Linked DNA regions of Homo sapiens: regions 1 and 2 are each linked to region 3. The links come from fine-mapping of genetic effects on gene expression. A gene starts in region 3. Each other region holds a variant in brackets. All regions are shown on one strand. Distances are between the middles of the regions. Region 1 holds the start of LZTS1-AS1 (LZTS1 antisense RNA 1). Region 2 overlaps LZTS1 (leucine zipper tumor suppressor 1). Region 3 holds the start of LZTS1 (leucine zipper tumor suppressor 1).

The links.
Region 1: its variant is fine-mapped to the expression of LZTS1 in whole blood (TOPMed, PIP 0.91).
Region 2: its variant is fine-mapped to the expression of LZTS1 in blood mononuclear cells (TOPMed, PIP above 0.99). The same link has a PIP of 0.9 or more in whole blood.

The regions. Positions count from the first base shown.
Region 1 is chr8:20,272,188-20,278,153 of GRCh38, reverse strand. The region is part of intron 1 of LZTS1 (leucine zipper tumor suppressor 1); the gene reads left to right. LZTS1-AS1 (LZTS1 antisense RNA 1) reads right to left here and starts at 2,381. Exons shown (of 3, transcript NR_047509.1): 1 at 2,240-2,381. RefSeq lists an enhancer at 5,745-5,966. The variant G/C (reference allele first, on the strand shown) is at 3,621.
Region 2 is chr8:20,248,554-20,254,519 of GRCh38, reverse strand. LZTS1 (leucine zipper tumor suppressor 1) reads left to right here. Exons shown (of 4, transcript NM_021020.5): 3 at 935-1,738; 4 at 4,157-5,966. The coding sequence ends at 4,798. Among named protein-coding and RNA genes, the nearest start is that of LZTS1-AS1, 24 kb to the left of the region's middle. RefSeq lists enhancers at 4,411-4,954, 4,955-5,496. The variant C/T (reference allele first, on the strand shown) is at 2,677.
Region 3 is chr8:20,301,216-20,307,181 of GRCh38, reverse strand. LZTS1 (leucine zipper tumor suppressor 1) reads left to right here and starts at 3,219. Exons shown (of 4, transcript NM_021020.5): 1 at 3,219-3,442. RefSeq lists a silencer at 3,160-3,229.

The DNA.
Region 1 (5,966 bases), 29 kb after region 3:
TGGGAGACTGCCTGTCCCTGGCACCAGCTGTGACCAATTATTATTTCAGCGACACACTGTAACAACCACCTGACCATCTGATGGTCACCTGACATTCCTGGGTTGGGGACTCTCCTGCCCTGCTCATGCCTGCCCGACTACCTACTGTAACACAACTATGTGCCAGGCGCTGTGCTAAGTGATACATACAGTGGTGAGCAAGACGTTCCAAGGTGCTCATAGTAGATGGGAGTGTTTCCACACACACATTATCCTGCTCCCAGCCTTCCCTCCAGTCCCAGGGTTCCCAAGCTCTGCACCAAGCTGGAATTGGCATTAGACACAGCAAGTCCTACTGGGAAATGGCTAGGAGGCTGACAAATCCTGCTGTTTTGGATCTTGCACCAGATTCTTGGCACTATGGTGCACAGAAACAGAGAAAAGGGTGCTTTTAGGACAGTTCGCCCACCTGGAGTTGCTGGAATTTTCTAACACCCCACCCTACTTCCTCCAACTCATAGATCAGCCTACAAAGTGAAAATCCACAGTTAAAGGCCCAGTTCTTAAACCATTTCTTGGTTTGTCCTGTTGGAATTAATACCAGCCTTATATACTTGTTACTGGAAAGAGGTCCTAATCCAGTCCCCAAGAGAGGGTTCTTGGACCTTGCTCAAGAAAGAATTCAGGGCAAGTCCATAAAGTGAAAGCAAGTTTACAAAACAAAAGAATGGCTACTCCATAGGCAGAGCAGCAGCATGGCTGTTCAGCTGAATATACTTATAGTTATTTCTTGATTATATGCTAAAAAAAGGGGTGTATTATTCATGAGTTTTCCGGGAAAGGGGTGGGTACTTCCCAGAACTGAGGGTTCCTCCCTTTTTAGACCATATACGGTAATTTCCTGACATTGCCAGGGCATTTGTAAACTGCCAAGGCACTGCTGGGAATATCTTTTAGCATATTAATGCACTATAATTAGCATATAATGAGCAGTGAGCACGACCAGAGGTCACTCTCATCACCATCTTGGTTTTGGTAGGTTTTGGCCTGCTTCTTTACCACAGCCTGTTTTATCAGCAAGGTCTTTATGACCTGTATCTTCTGCCTACTTCCTGTCTCATCCTGTGACTTAGAATGCCTTAACTTCCTGGCAATGCAGCCCAGTAGGTCTCAGCCTTATTTTACCCAGCCCCTATTCAACATGGAGTTGCTCTGGTTCAAATGCCTCTGACATGCTTACCCTTAATCCTAATGTCCAGTATTGGGAGCACCTTTAATAAATAAACCGTTTTCCTCTGATCTAACACCGTAACAATCAACCCAGAAGACTTCTATTACCACATATGTGGGGTTTTCCCAACCAACAAGAAAACAATCAGCTCTGCAGAGGACCCTCTGATGTTCTCTCATTCAGTTCATTTATGGCACTACCTACCTGGAGATTAATTCACCAGGTTGTTTCACCAATACTTCTGACTGGCTATAAATTGGAGTTCCCATGACCCCAGCCTTGGGTTTGATTAATTTGCTAGAGCAGCTCACAGAACTCAGTGAAACACACTTACTGATTGATTGTACAGGATATTACAAAGGATACAGATGAAGAGATGCGTAGAGAAAGGCAGGGGAGAAGAGGTGGGGTGCTTCCATGCCCTCTCTGGGCACGCCACCCTCCAAGACCCTCCAGGTGTTCAACTATCCAGAAACTTCCTGAGCCCTGTCCTTTTGGGTTTTTATGGAGGCTACATTGCATAGGCATGATTGATTAAGCCATTGGCCATTGGTGATCAACTTAACCTTCAGCCCCTCTCTCCTCCCCAGAGGTTAGGGGCAGTGGCTGAAAGTCCCAACCATCTAATCCTGCCTTGGTCTTTCTGGTGACCTGCCCTATTCTGAAGCTACCAACCATCAGTCAAAAAAAAAAAAAAATCACTCTGGAGACTCTAAGGATTTTAGGATGCCAGGAAATGGGGTCAAAGACCAAATATATATTTTATAATATCATAGTCATCCATTCATTAAACCAGCGTATCTTAAAATGAATCTATCCCAGGATTATATTATTTCTTGATAACCTATAGGCCTCTTAAACATTTTCTTTATTTTTTGGAAGTAGTTATAATGGGGGAGTAGGTAGGGGGCTACTAGCTTTATAGACTTCTCCTCCCATTAAAATGTGCTCCAGTCCCAAAAACCTGCCTTCATTTCTGCAGGCTACACCATTTCTTCTACCCATGTTGAAATGCACTCAACCACATACCTCCTTTCTTGCAGCTAAGCCCTGACTCCTTTTAGTTAATAACAGTTCACCCCGGCACGTGACATCTGCAAAAAAGAAATCCAATCCTCATAACCAGCAGTTATGATACAGTCACTGCAGTAAGCTCCTACTGCTGTCCTTGCCCTGCACCCTCACCCTTCCCCACAGGGCCCCTTCTCTCTGCCCAGTCACTCATTTGCATCACAATGGAGGTCCTCTCCGGAGTCCCAGTCTTAACCCCTCCCTCTGCTGCTAGGACTGGACCCACCAGCACTTTCCATCTTCCTCGTCCTTCCTTGTTTCCTTCTCTTTCTCCTCTCTTACCCCGAGATTGCCCCTTACCCTTTAGGATTCCCTCACCTATGCCTTCTTAGATTTTTTCTCCTGCTTAGGCCCTTCCCCAACTCCCAGCCCACCTCTCTCTGGGGTCTGCAGGAAAGCTTCTCCCGGGTGGGGGAAGTAAGGCTGGGAGCTAACCCATATGGACAATTCTTTTTTTTTTTTTTTTTTGAGATGAAGTCTTACTCTGTTGCCCAGGCTGGAGTGCAGTGGCGCGATCATCTCGGCTTACTGCAACCTCTGCCTCCCGGGTTCAAGTGATTCTCCTGCCTCAGCATCCCAAGTAGCTGGGATTACAGCTGCCCGCCACCACACCCAGCTAATTTTTGTATTTTTAGTAGAGATGGGGTTTCACCATGTTGGCCAGGCTGGTCTCGAATTCCTGACCTCAGGTGATCCACCCGCCTCAGTCTCCCAAAGTACTGGGATTACAGGCTTGAGCCATGGCGCCCAACCATAATTCTTTCTGTCCCCAGTTAATGAGTTATCCATCTCTTCCACACACATTAGTATCTGTCCCCCACCCACTGCCCTTCAGAGACTTCCCTCCAGGAAGCGAATATCACAATCCTGAGAGGTAATCCCATTGAGACACACACACACACACACACACAGTATCATGGCAGCCACTCTATCTTTGTTTTTGATCACAGCGCTCCAAGGAGCCCACTCAGTGAGGGACCAAGGGTTAGGTCGAGGGGTCACTGAGAACTAATTCAATCTTTTGTACAAATCCTAACTTCCAGTTTAGGTGGGGCCACCAATGCATCCCGCTTTACGAGGACTTTCCTGGTGATTTAGCACTGACATCCCACATCCCAGAAATTCCCACAGTCCCAGGCAGATCAGGACAGTTGGTTGTGCTGTGTCCCAGATTATTTTCACAAAGTGGAGCTTGGAGTGCAGAAAAGCTCGACACCAAGGGAGTGTTGACGCTGGTACACGCACTTACGCCCCATTGGGTTACGCTGTCCAGCTGTAATCTTATCTCCACATAAGGGGGGTCTAACACTCAGGCCCACAGACTCCAACACGCCCACAG[G/C]CTCGGACCCAATGCTCAGGCCAGAGTGCCACTGAGGCATGAGTGCCCACATGGAGAAGCCTCCATCACACACCGGGATGGAGATGATTGCCGCTATGCTCCAAGCTACCTAGTGTATTCCAAGGGGTTCCCTAGGATGAGGAGAAGGGATGAAAAGTTCGTAAACACCCACTGTGTAGAGTGTTTTATGGTGTTGCATTTGGGAAAGGGTAGCTGGTAGAACATAGGCACCATAAAATAAAATACGATGCATAAACACACGCTTATCCATTCATTCAACAAACAAGCACTGAGTCTTGGGCCAGAAGGTACTGCGCTCGAAGCTGGGAGTACAGTGTTGGGTGAAAAACAGTCTTGCCATCTACTGAGAAAGAGCTCAAAGTAGAGAGCAGCTGTGCTACAGAGTGATTAATGCCCACTGTAAGAACACGCAGAAGGGGCCTCACAGATACGGGAAGGCTTCATAGCAGAAGAGTGCCTTCTGAGCAAAGTCCCAGGGGCTTTGGGCCTAGGGAGCAGCGTGGGAAAACCTAGGGCAGGGTCTGAGGGAGAAAATGACAGATTTACAAACTCCAGTCTCAGAATAGAGGGCGGGCAGGCCTGGGGAGGGGAGGAGAGGAAGTGGTGGCGGATGACATGAAGATACAAAGATACAGAAAGTCCCAGTCATGAAGGCCTTCTCTGCCATGTTAGGACATTTGGGCTTTATTTTTGGGGCAATAGGGTAGCCTTGGGAGAGCTAGGAAAAAAAAAAACAAATATAACAGGTCTATTAATTTCCCAAGGGAACTATGATAGCAACTTAGACTAAGACAGTGGCTATGGAATCTCAGGGAAATGCTGGTTTTGAGGAAAAGCAATAGTGAGACAGGGCTTGGTGGCTGGTCAGATGTAGGGTGAGGGCTGAGTGGGAATCAAAAGTTCCTGGTTTGCTTAGGTTTCTTGGGACCGGTTTCTGGCTTGATCACAGTTGTGCTGTTCACTAACACCGGGATTCCAGAAGGAGGGGCACGCTGAAGGCAGATGGATCCTGGCAAGCAAGAGAGAATGAAGAATTCCACTGTGGATGTGCGAGGGTGAGATGTGGCCCCTCCGAGGGAAGCGCAGTTGGATGTTTAGGGCAGGAGCTCAGGGGAGAGGATTTGGCTGCAGATAACGATCTAAAAATCATCCCCATGTGGATGCAGCTGACGCCGTGCAGAAGGAGCAGAGGTCAGGGTCTCAGATACAGCCTGAAAAGCATCCACATTTAGAGAATGAAAGAGGTAAAGGTGACAGAGGACAGGCTGCGCAACAGGAGGAAAGCCAGGCAATCACGGTATCACATAAGCCAAGGAAGCAGTGTTTCAAAAAACACAGACCGAAAAAGAAAGAGACAGAGCCGCCGAGAGGTCAAGTTTGCTAACTATTGGGAAGGTCCATTGGATTTAGCAACATCCCGGAGGGCAGTTCTAGTGGATTGGTGGGGACAGAAACCAGGGCCTCTGTGGATTGAAGAGCCAATGAGAAATGATCGAGCAGCAATAGTGAGTATGATGTTCTGTCTCTCTCGAGAAGCTTGGCTGTGAACGGGAGAAAAAAGACAGTGGTCCCTGGAGAAGAAAATGGAGTCCAGGAGCTTGTATGTTATTTTTGAATTGGGAGACTTGTGCACGTTTAAATGCTCATGGGAGAGAATAATAGAAAACTGGAAGTGAGAAGGTTGGCGTTGACGAGAGTCACGCCATGGCTGGAAGGATTAGTCTGAGATGAAGACAGACTTCTGTTTCACGGTGACAGGCACAGAGGAGGCAGCAGTCATGTCAATTGCAGGTTTATGAGTTCAGGGAATTGAGGGAGTTTCCTCCCAATGATTCTACTTATCTCTGTATTATAGAGATGAAGTTGTCTGCAGGGAGTGTGGCAGCAGAGGTGGGTACAGGGCTTTGTAAGTGGCAAAGGACTGATAAGATTTGAGAAATGCAACAGGGAGCAGGAGAAGCACAGGGCAGCTAGGGGGTCTTGATTCTAGGGTCCCCATCGGCATCTGGGCTCAAAAAAGAGTTCCATGTCTAGTGGACAAAGGCACCACTTCAAAATACAAAGACCACCCAGCAGGGAAAACCAATGAGGACCTGATCTGGGAAGGGGGGTCAGGCTCAGAAGGGAGAATTGGGCATGAGCAAAGCCACAGGGGAGGAAAAAAGCAAGACAGGCCCTTGAGGGTGGTCAAGGGACACCAGTAAGGTCACTCTGGAGGTCAGATGCGACCCAGAGTATCAGCAGCTGCACATCGTGGATCAGTCAAGAAGCAGGCCCAGTCATTCTAGCCTGAAATAGTGGGAGATGACCTGGGAAGACAGGTTG
Region 2 (5,966 bases), 53 kb after region 3:
TGCCAAGCCTCGGGAAGGAGAGGGAGCCCTGTTCTCATCTGGAAGCACAGATGAAGAGGATGCAGGCCGGGAGTTAACCGCTTCTCTCCCCGGGAGACTCGTGGGGGTGGGTGCGGTCTTCTCATTTGCTGCCCTGGTGTGCATTAGCTCCTTGTTCAAGCTGCGCCTGGGGGCATCTTTGAATACAGGCTGGAGTTTTGTCATCCATTTACCAGAGATTAGGGCAAAGGAGGCCCAGGCACTGAGAAATCCAGCCCTCACACCAGCTCAAGCCCTCGTGCGTCCCACGAGTGGACACTGAAATCAATTTTCCTATTCAGTCCTCTGCCCCTTGCCCTGGGGAAATGAATCCCCGGCTTTGATTTACTAGGAAAGAGCCTCTTATGTTTGCATAGAGCATTCAGCTTTTCAAATTAAGGGGCTTGTAAACTGTGAAGCACTCTACCAGGGAAAATTACAGTTTTAAAAAAGGATCGTGATTTGGAGTGAGCCTCCCAACCCTGTAAGGAGGCCAGGTCCGTGTCCTTGCTCCAGGCTTAATGGAAGAGGCAGTGAACAGGAAGAAGGGATGGACCTAAAGAGGGACAGCAAGCTCGGCCAGCCTGATGCCCTAACTTGCCCCACACAGAGACCTAGAGCAGGAGCCTCAAGATGGTATTTATCACCTCGGGAGGGCTGGGGCAAGCTGGTGGCAGGTTGCTATTTCATAGAACAAAGTGCCCAAGTCGCCATTAGGGTTTTTCCTTCCTAAGAGAGATGACATTCAGCTGCTTCAAAGCAACAGGCAAGGTCTGCTGAGACAATTGACCAAGAGGGGTGCTGCGTGCGCTCAGAGAGCCCAGACTGGCTCAAGGTCGGCACGCGTGCCTGGGGAGGGAGGGTGCAATGCGCGCGCAGGGGAGGCATGAGTCACCGCGGTCCTTTTCCTCTACAGGGCTCCGAGAAGGGTGCAGTGAGGCCCACAGCCTTCAAGCCTGTGCTGCCACGGTCAGGAGCCATCCTGCACTCCTCCCCGGAGAGTGCCAGCCACCAGCTGCACCCCGCCCCTCCAGACAAGCCCAAGGAGCAGGAGCTGAAGCCTGGCCTGTGCTCTGGGGCGCTGTCAGACTCCGGCCGGAACTCCATGTCCAGCCTGCCCACACACAGCACCAGCAGCAGCTACCAGCTGGACCCGCTGGTCACACCCGTGGGACCCACAAGCCGTTTTGGGGGCTCCGCCCACAACATCACCCAGGGCATCGTCCTCCAGGACAGCAACATGATGAGCCTGAAGGCTCTGTCCTTCTCCGACGGAGGTAGCAAGCTGGGCCACTCGAACAAGGCAGACAAGGGCCCCTCGTGTGTCCGCTCCCCCATCTCCACGGACGAGTGCAGCATCCAGGAGCTGGAGCAGAAGCTGTTGGAGAGGGAGGGCGCCCTCCAGAAGCTGCAGCGCAGCTTTGAGGAGAAGGAGCTTGCCTCCAGCCTGGCCTACGAGGAGCGGCCGCGGCGCTGCAGGGACGAGCTGGAGGGCCCGGAGCCCAAAGGCGGCAACAAGCTCAAGCAGGCCTCGCAGAAGAGCCAGCGCGCGCAGCAGGTCCTGCACCTGCAGGTACTGCAGCTTCAGCAGGAGAAGCGGCAGCTCCGGCAGGAGCTCGAGAGCCTCATGAAGGAGCAGGACCTGCTGGAGACCAAGCTCAGGTCCTACGAGAGGGAGAAGACCAGCTTCGGCCCCGCGCTGGAGGAGACCCAGTGGGAGGTGAGGCCACACAGGGCTCATGGGTTTGGGTGGTCAGCGGTTTGGCGCCAGTACCCCCCTCTCCTTCTGGTGCCGGCCAATAGCGTGCAAACACAGACCGCGCAGGCAAGCGGGGCTAATGTGCTGGCTTTATCACCCAAAGAAGGGGCTCCCTGCAAACCATGTTGGGGGATCGACTTACATCTGAGCTTCCTCCTGTCCCCACCATCACCCTCATGGCTCCTAGATTTCAGTTTCCCAAGTGAGCCATTAAATCATGAAGCCGGAAGCCAGATGACCAAGGCCCAGCCAGGCTGTGGGCTGACCTCCCTTCCATCAGCTCCCAGGAGGCTCAGAAGAAGAACAAGCCGTGCCTGAGTTCAGGCGGGGCCAGGGGCCCAAGAGAGCACAGAATGCATTTGTTGCTTTGGAGGGAGGGACTGCACCCACTAGTAAGAGGGACCCTATTGGTGGCAGGTTTCAGTGATGGAAGTGGCCACTCCTTGCTGAAGTGTAAGTGGAACTTCTATTTGGTGAGCTGAGATGGAAACCTAGGAGAGGAAGTAAAGAGTCCCCCACTCACACACTTACACACTCACACACACTCACTCACCCGGTCACACGTGGAAATGAGGCATCTGTACCTGACCGTGCTGGAGAACCCCATAACCTCTGCATCTATTAGTGGGAAAGCAGCTTTTCTCACCAGCCTGGTGGTCTGGATGACTCATGGAGTTCAAGCCCATCGTTGAGGCTCTTTACATGCTCGCACCCAGCTTGGTCTGTCCACGTGCCTGCCTCACCCCCAGTTCAGAGTCCAACTCTCAGTCTACACGCAAACCCCTGGCTATGTGCAAGTCAACAACCAGTGGTTTAACTTGCCCACTGCTGGCAGCTGTATCACCCCCATTTAACACCAATGGTATTGGTTTTGGTGTCAGCCTGATTTCCGTCATCGA[C/T]GTTTATGCCCACATCCTCTGACCTCACCCCTGCATGCACCCAGCCCTCCTCTCTCCTGTCTACTGGAGTAAAGACTACCTCACAAATTCACTGCTGTACCCAGTGACTAGTATCATGCTGGCTTGGATGCAGAGCCCAATCCACATCTGTCAAACGAGGAATCATTGTCTTCTCCTCTTGCTCTTCTTCTCTATTTCCACCCCTATCCCCCATCAAAATTTGGCCAAGAGCAATGATGAAAACCGAAGCCACAGGTTAGACCCATGTGTCTCTGGATCTTGGCCATCTGGGGTCATGGGAGACCAAGGCCAGTCTGGCTGAATCTTAAGAGTGAATGAAGTCCAGAGCATGTGGCTCTACAGAATGGATTCTTGGAACTAGCCTGGAAGCCACCTTCACATTTCCTTTCACAGTAGAAATTTCCCCTTGCCCTCAGTGAAACACTGCACAGTCCTGGAGAAAATCCGACCCTACCCAGGATGCGTGCTTGGGACCAAGAATTTCATTCCAAGGCCAACCCTGTATTCATGCCACGAAGGGAGTGACACAGTCATGGCTGAGGCATGGGCCTGGCTTTGAACCTCAGCTTGACCACTTATGATCCAGGTGATTGTAAATACATTAGCCATGGTGGCAATGGGGTATAGTGATTAAACTGTTGGGATCAAATCTCTACTCTTATACTTTATATTTTATATATATATATATATATATATATATATATATATATATATATATATATATTAGCCCTCAGGCTGGTCACTTCACCAGCTATTTGCTATCATAACCTCTCTGTGCCTCAGTTTCATTGATGTAAATTGAGGACTACTAATAGTACCTACTTCATCGGGTTGTAAGGAATAGATGAGCAAATGTATGGCTTGGCACTTAATAACACTACAAATTATTAGTGAAAGTATGTTTATAATAATATACTTCTGTGTGGCTAGGCGTGGTGGCTCACGCCTGCAATCCCAGCACTTTGGGAGGCAGAGGCAGGCAGAGCACTTGAGGTCAGGAATTCGAGATCAGCCTGGCCAACATGAGGAAACCCCGTCTCTACTAAAAATACAAAAATCAGCCAGGCATGGTGGCAGGTGTCTGTAATCCCAGCTACTTGGGAGGCTGAGGCAGGAGAATCAGAGGGGAGGCGGAGGTTGCAGTGAGCCAAGATCACGCCACTACACCCCAGCCTAGGTGACAAAGCGAGACTTCTCAAATAATAACAATAATAATATACTATGTGTCATTATACATGATTATTATTATTTTATCATTTTACTATATAGCCTAGCTCGATAACCTGGGGAAAAGGTCACAGCAATGTTCAGCTTACTTTCAGATTGGACAAAGGCTGGAATGCCTAACACCGGGCCACCGCATCCGGAGTGGCTTGGTTATTTTAGGCAGCTGAGCTGTCACTTCCCTGGGTAAGGACACTCACCTCTTGGCACTCTGTCTCCACCCCACCCTCGGCAGGTGTGCCAGAAGTCAGGCGAGATCTCCCTCCTGAAGCAGCAGCTGAAGGAGTCCCAGACGGAGGTGAACGCCAAGGCTAGCGAGATCCTGGGTCTCAAGGCACAGCTGAAGGACACGCGGGGCAAGCTGGAGGGCCTGGAGCTGAGGACCCAGGACCTGGAGGGCGCCCTGCGCACCAAGGGCCTGGAGCTGGAGGTCTGTGAGAATGAGCTGCAGCGCAAGAAGAACGAGGCGGAGCTGCTGCGGGAGAAGGTGAACCTGCTGGAGCAGGAGCTGCAGGAGCTGCGGGCCCAGGCCGCCCTGGCCCGCGACATGGGGCCGCCCACCTTCCCCGAGGACGTCCCTGCCCTGCAGCGGGAGCTGGAGCGGCTGCGGGCCGAGCTGCGGGAGGAGCGGCAAGGCCATGACCAGATGTCCTCGGGCTTCCAGCATGAGCGGCTCGTGTGGAAGGAGGAGAAGGAGAAGGTGATTCAGTACCAGAAACAGCTGCAGCAGAGCTACGTGGCCATGTACCAGCGGAACCAGCGCCTGGAGAAGGCCCTGCAGCAGCTGGCACGTGGGGACAGCGCCGGGGAGCCCTTGGAGGTTGACCTGGAAGGGGCTGACATCCCCTACGAGGACATCATAGCCACTGAGATCTGAGGGGCTGCCTGGGAAGGCGAGTCTGGGGACCTGGCACTGGGAGGCAGGGCTCTCCCGTGCATCCCCCCTGCTCAGCAATTCAGACCCCTCTGAGAGACGCCACTCCCTGGGACACAGACCCAGGACCCCCGAGGGGAGGGCAGGATGGCCTTTCCTTCCCTCTCTGATGTCCCAGTGCTCACCAGCCCTGCAGCCCACCAGACGTCAGGCCCTGACTCCTCTGGCTTTCCCAGGAGATGGGTCCAGGGGTCTGTCTGCTTTGGTTAAGGGCTCCCTAAACTTTGGCCTTTGTTCGAAATAGATATCCTCTCCCCCTCCTCCAGGGAAGGTGGCCACAGCAAGTACAGCGGCTCCCCTCTGCTTCTCATCCCAACCTCTTTTTCCTCCTGGACACATTGGAATGCCTTGGAAATAGAAAGAAGCCATATATGACCAGAAGCCTTGGAACCAGCCCCATCAGAACCTGAGCTATTTTCCTCTGGCCGCAGAGGTGTAGGGGTGGAATGAGCCGCGGGGAAGCTGGCTTTGAAACCTCAGGGCTGTCCCAGCCCCGGCAAGCCACAGGAAGGAGGGGAGAGACAGGCAGCCCAGCAGTGTGGAGACCCTGCCACAGCCAGAGGAGGGCAGAGGGAGAATCCAAGGGTTGAGAGCCAGTGGCGGGTGATGGCCAGCCCCTGGGGCCCAGCCCCTGTTTACTGGTTCTTGCAAATGGGAGCTGAGCAGCCTCTGGACAGCCAGTGACCTTTGACCTCGGTGACCACTCTTCTTTAAGCCATAGACCCTGAGGCCCTGGGCTGGGTGCTGGGAAGGGAGGGTTGAAACCACCGTGAACCAGAGGGTGTGGCTTTCCAGGCACCCTCAGGGAGCCTCCCCATCTGTCCAGCTGGGGCCAGAGGCTGGGAGTCCCTACCTGCTTCACGTTGGCCGGCGGCTACTCTGGAATGTTTTTCCCTCCCCAGAATCAAGCTTTTGCTTGATCCAGAAGAGCCCATATCACTAAGATGGCATATATGTGATCTGGGCATTTTCCTCCTCTGCCTACAGCCAGGTTTAGCGGCAAACCTTTCCCCCTTAGCACCTTCAGGGCTGAGTTCTGGGTTTCTAGAGGTCAGGACGGCTCCTCAGAGCGCCAGGAAGCCAGAGCCCCAAGCAGGACGAAAAAGAGGCA
Region 3 (5,966 bases):
GTCTGGTCCAGTGTGGCCAATCTTAGGTCCTAGAGATGAAGCATGATGCTCTGTATCTCAGGTGATGAATACAGGAGGAGGGTAGGAGATTTTTACAAGAAATGTTTTGTGACCCAGCTTTCTAGACTCGACTCAGGCAAGGGAGAGCCTGAGGGATGCAGAGTTTCACATAAGACACCTCTCGGGAACCCAGACACTAAGGAAGGGCAGCGCCCCTTCACTAGACAAGGAAGAAAAGGAGCCACACTGAGAACCTACCGGTGGTGTTGGGGGTAGACACACCCAGCCATTGCATTACCATACCCAACTGCTGAATCAGGGAGCTAATTATGGCTTTGTGCTGCTGGAGACCACATTCCTGAGGCTTTCATGCACACATACGGAACCATAATACATACACACATGCTGTGCTGTCCATCACTGGTCTCCTTCTCCACTCTGCCTTCTCATTTCCAGCCCCACTCTCTATGCATTCTGTCTCTAAAGTATCCCTTCCACAGGGTGTTTCTGTTGTTCCATAGGGTATCCCATTTCCACCGCTCATACACAAACCAACACACTGCTCATACCCTTTGCCTGACTCAGTCATTCCAGGAAGGCTGCACATCATACCCAGCTTTCACCTAGAATGTCACTGACAAAGGTGTCAGTGCTGAAGGAGGGTCCTTAAGGAGTATCTTCTCATCCAAACCATCCACTTTCCAGATGAGGAAACTGAGGCCTCATCAGGGACTCCAAACCATCCACTTTCCAGATAGGAAACTGAGGTCTCATCAGGGACTCCAAACCATCCACTTTCCAGATGAGGAAACTGAGGCCTCATTAGGGACATGGCTTGTCCAAGAGCATATAGTCAGCAGTAGGGCCAGAACAAAAAGTGGGCTTCCAGAGTCCTTTGTCTCTTCCATGGAATCTCACCTCCGACGATGTGAAAATGAGTTTGAAGTCTGGAGCCCACCTCATACCTTAATCTACCTTCCAGGAGTCTGCTCTTTCCTTAAAGCGCTGGAATGTTTGATCGATATTAACTCATTCAGCTAAAATTCTTGAGATACTCTCACCAGCAAGCAAGAATACATGTTCTCTGTCAATAAATGCAACACAAAGAAGCATGGCGCTTTAGAAAAAGAAGACATTATTTTGCCCTGGACGATAAGAGAAGGTGTGAGTAAGGGTTCCATATTTTGTCTCAGATTTTGAGAGGTAGAGTTAGAAGAGCAGGAGAAAAGCTTTTCAGACTGAGGGGCAGGTTTATACAAAGGTGGGGAAAAGGAGGTGATGTTCAGGAAAAGGCTGAGTAGCCTTTGGGGTTGACACTTAGAAATTGTCGTATTGCTTGTAATTACTGCCACGTGTATGTACTTACCGCAAGGCAGTGGGTTTCATTTAATCATCAGAACAAACCTATACATGAGAAATTCATTCATTTAACAAATACATATTGAGTGCCTACTATGTTGCCTGGCAAGTTCTAGGTGTCGGGGATACATCTATGAATAAAACAGACCAAGTCCCTCAGCCACCAATAAAAGAGAACAAGTTCCTGCCTTCAGGGAATTTACACTGGGACTTGTTACCTCATTTCACAAATAAAAAAAGAAAGAAAGAAAAAGAAAAACTGAGAAAGAGGGAGGGGAAGGTAATGGCTCAAATAACAAGCAGCGAAGCCTGTCTGTGTTCTTAAACCCTCGCGGTGCCATCTTTCAGGAAGCCTAGATTCGAAGGTCAGAGTCTTCAGGGTCAACAACCGAAGGCAGTGAGATTCCCCTACAGGGTTTTGAGCAGGGGTGTGGCAGAAACCATATGGCTTGTTTTCCTTTGAGCTGTCCCCCCTGCCACCACAATTCTATTTAATTTTTTTGTATTTATTTATTTATTTATTTATTTTGAGACACGGTGTCACTCTGTCACCCAGGCTGGAGTGCAGTGGCACTATCTTGGCTCACTGCAACCTCTGCCTTCCAGGCTCAAGCAATTCCCAAGCCTCAGCCTCCCAAGTAGCTGGGATTACAGGCTCCTGCCACCACACCCAGCTAATTTTTGTATTTTTTTTTTTTTTTTTTTTTAGTAGAGACGGGGTTTCACCATGTTGGCCAGGCTGGTCTTCAACTCCTGACCTCAAGTGATCCACCAACCTCGGCCTCCCAAAGTGCTGAGATTACAGGCATGAGCCACCGCGTCCGGCCCCCATGCTATTTATAATCAGATCGGCTATGTCAATCCTAATCCATTACATCTATCCCCCACCCCCCAACACACACACACACACACACACACACACACACACACACACACAGGCTTCTTTCAAGATGAGGCTAACACTCCTTGGGCAGAGCTGCCATCTTCCCGCCAAGCCTGGTTTTAGAGGATTAGCCTCAGTGCACCCTCAAGCCCCCAAGCCTCATGCTGCACCTAGCACTCCGGTTAACTGACCCTTTGTCCTACAAAACCTTGTAAGCTTGAATCCTCTCCTGGCTCAGTTGCTAGAAGTTAAAAGTGAGGGTGGTTGAGAAAATGATAGTATTATAAGGGGACTGGGTGAGACTAATAGCTATAAACTTGAAACAGGCCTCTGCTGTCACCTGAAACTCAGCTCCCTCAGAGCTGGAAAAGTTTGCTTTTGACATGTTTTGGGAGTGGGAGTCCCGGTGCTCTGGACTCTAGCCTGTAATCCTGGTGTGGTTCGCAATGCCCCTCACTTGGGTGCTAGTCCAGTCCTTGAACAAAACACACGCCCTTTAGTGCGAGTCGGGAGCGGGAGAGACGGTATTAAGAAAAATAAACTGGCGATTAAGAGGAAGGGGTAATGAAGAAAGGGGAACATACACAGAACGGGAGAAGGAATGGATTTTAAACAAAACTGGAGTAAGAATTTCAGGTAATGAAAGGGAAAAAAGGATGCGACAAGAGCAAGACAGGAACAATCGGAGAAAGGGGGCCAGGCAAGAAAGGAAGACTGAGGGGGCAGGGTCGCCCAATGGGGCTGATGGAAGTGAGAGCAGAGAGACGGGACCCGGGACCCCGCGCAGGCCGCGGGCGCGAAGGAGCCGCGAGGTCGCGAGCAGCCCCAGCTGTCAGCCCGGAACAAAGGCCGCCGAGCGGCACAGACCAGGCTGCCGGCAGCTCGCTGCCAATCAGCGGCGCCGGCTCTGGCCCCGCCCCGGGCCGGCCCCGCCCCGCCCCGCCCCGCCCCGCCCCGCCCCGGCTCCGGGACCCGCGCAGAGGCCGGCGCGCCTGGAGCTGGCGGGTTGGCAGCGGCCGGGCGGGGAGGCCGAAAGTTTCTCTGCCCGCCTCGGCCAGTGAGTGGGAGCCGGGAGCTGCATCCCGCGCAGTGGGACCGGCCCGGCCCGCTCAGCAGCTCTGGAAAAAGAGAGACGGGAACACACCGGGAAACACTGGGAAAAAAAAAAAGTCTCAAGTGCGCCCGAGGCGCAGGGGGCAGGTAAGGTGCGGTGGCCGGGGATCTCCTCGCCCCTGGAGGGTCTGCTGCCCTGGCTGCGGGAAACCGCTTTCCCCTCGCCGGGCCGGACCGTCCGTGCGTCCGCGCGTCCGTCGGTCTTTGTCTGTCTGTGTCCGTGGCTGTCGAGGTGTCTTTGTCTCCGCGTGGAGCTGTCAGGGTCTCCCCTCTGCAGGGTGGGCGCCGCTTCTCCGGCCCGGCCCAGAGGAGGTGACTGTGCGTCTGTCCTCCTGTCTTTGTCTTCGTGTCTCCTGCAGACGGGGTTCGTCTATTCCCAGCACCGATGCTGATCCTGGCGGGGACGTCAGTGTTAGGTGACACTGGTGTCGGAGGTGAAGAAGTGGGAGGTGGGGACGCGAGGCCGCAGGAGCAGGGGCCGCAGGAAGAGGGTCCGGCGGTCGGTCCGGGCCGCTGAACTTCGCCGCCTGGAACTTTGCAGATGAGCTGTGTCCACACCGGTGGGGAGGACACCGGTGCGTTGCAGCCAGAGATTTGAAAGGTTTCCCTCAAGGAATAAGTCACACGGGCGGAGGTGGTTAGAGAGGAAGGTGGTAAATCGAAGTGTCTAAGTGGCTCCCTGGGGCTGCAGCTTCCTGGGGTCGGTCCTGGATGTGCAATTCAGGAATTTAGTCAAAGCACCATGCACACACAGACAGCCCCACACTACCTTCACTTCTTCCACCGCCACCCTAGGCAGCCAGACCTCACCCCTCCACCCTGCCACAGGCTTTGCTCTGGCTGGAGGGGCTTCAGAGGTCGCAGCTTGGCAGCAACAGGCATCCCCGAGACACCAAGGGCCAGGTGATGTCTCTTTTTCGTGCTCCAAGTGGAAAGGTTTGAACTGTGGAGCAAATGAGCCTTGTGCTCGCCCACGAGTATGTCAGGCCTGGGAAAGTGCTCCAGACTTGTTAGCTTCGCAGTCTTCAATTTCCCAGGAATAAGAAGTGCTTAGGGATCTGGCCTCCTAAAGTGTTTCCTGTCTCACTTATTCCCTCCACACCGTCCCGCTGCCATCAGCCCCTCTACTCTCTGGTCCCGGGCGCTGGGAAAGTACTGAGGAGGCACTGAGTTCTGGACCATGCCGGGCAGGCGCTGCTCCTAATAAGGATCCCACACTCTGCTGGAAGTGCAGCCTAATAGGAATGCTGGGAGCCCAGGAGCCCAGCCACAAAGAGATGAGCTATCTGCTTGGCAGTTCCTGCACCAAGACCCTGAGAAGAGTCTGCGGGTACCGGCAAGAGGGTGTTTGCAACCTGAGCTTTCTCTAAGTTCAAAAACAATTTTCTGCAGGCATCCAGAGGGAGAATGGAGGTGCCCGAAGAGTGTGCGCATATGGGTATTAGAGATAGCATGTACAGACGGGAAAGGTGTTTGTGTTTAAGAGTGGAGTGGAACATAGTCTGTGGGTAGAAGTCTGTGGGCAGAGAGCATGCAGGCTAATCAGGCGTGGCGTTACACCTTGTATTTATCCAGCGCTTTTCTTTGGAGGCTCTTTCTGCTCATCATAGACGTTATCTCATACGTTATCTCCTTTATCCTCACAACATAACTACCAGGTTGGTGCGGTGGGCTCTCTGTGCCTGCCAGTGAAGAAACGGAGGCGTCAGAAGGGAAAGGCTTTCCCTAAGGTCCCACAGCTAATAGGATGGAGCAACTGGGAGTCCTAGTAAGAGGTCTCAGCTGGGTGGATGTGAGTGTGGGGCGCTCACTCTGCTTAAGAAGAGAAGAAAACTAGTAGAAAAAGAACGGGCATCTCTGTGGGTGTCTATATGCAAGCAAAAGGGAGGGCGGGACATTTGATGTGCTGAAGATGGTTGTTAGTTAACATTTATAGCAGCGGCTGTGTGCTTCACGAGGTAAACCTGTCTCAGCAGTTCAGCTTGTGCATTTGTGTATCTGCAGGAGGTGCCCCCAGCTGTGTGTGCCTGGGTCGATGTGGGGCAGGGGTGCTGTCATAGAAGGAGTGCTGCTGCGTGGGGTGCCCTGGGGAAAGCCAATGCTTTGGGAGTGTGTGAGGGAAAGATGTGCCTTTCAGTTTTGAGAAGCCGTGGGTCAGCGTGTATAGCAAAGCTATACATGGGCTCCAGACGTATATAAATGGCTTTCTAATCCTGAAAACTTATTTATATGCCTTTGCGCTTATTCAACGTTCATTTCATAAATATTCATTGGGCGCCTACCAAATGCAAGGCTCTGAGCTGTGCAGCGAGGCTAGGAAGATGAATAATGTAATGATGACAGACCTATGGGTAAGCACCTTATAGACCAGTGTAATGGATAATACCGTAACACTTAATGCCAGCCACTAAATCCACTGTGTGCCTGGAACTTTTTATTCATTATCTCATTTAATTTTCACTGCAGCCCTGCGGGGTATGTATAATTATTAGATGAGGAGAGTTAAGTAATTTAGCCAGGCTACAAAACCGAGGGGCAGGGATTTGAGATCAGCTTAGTAAGGTTCTGGACCCTGGCTCTGTCCATGTTATTCTGCTACCTTTGAACATAG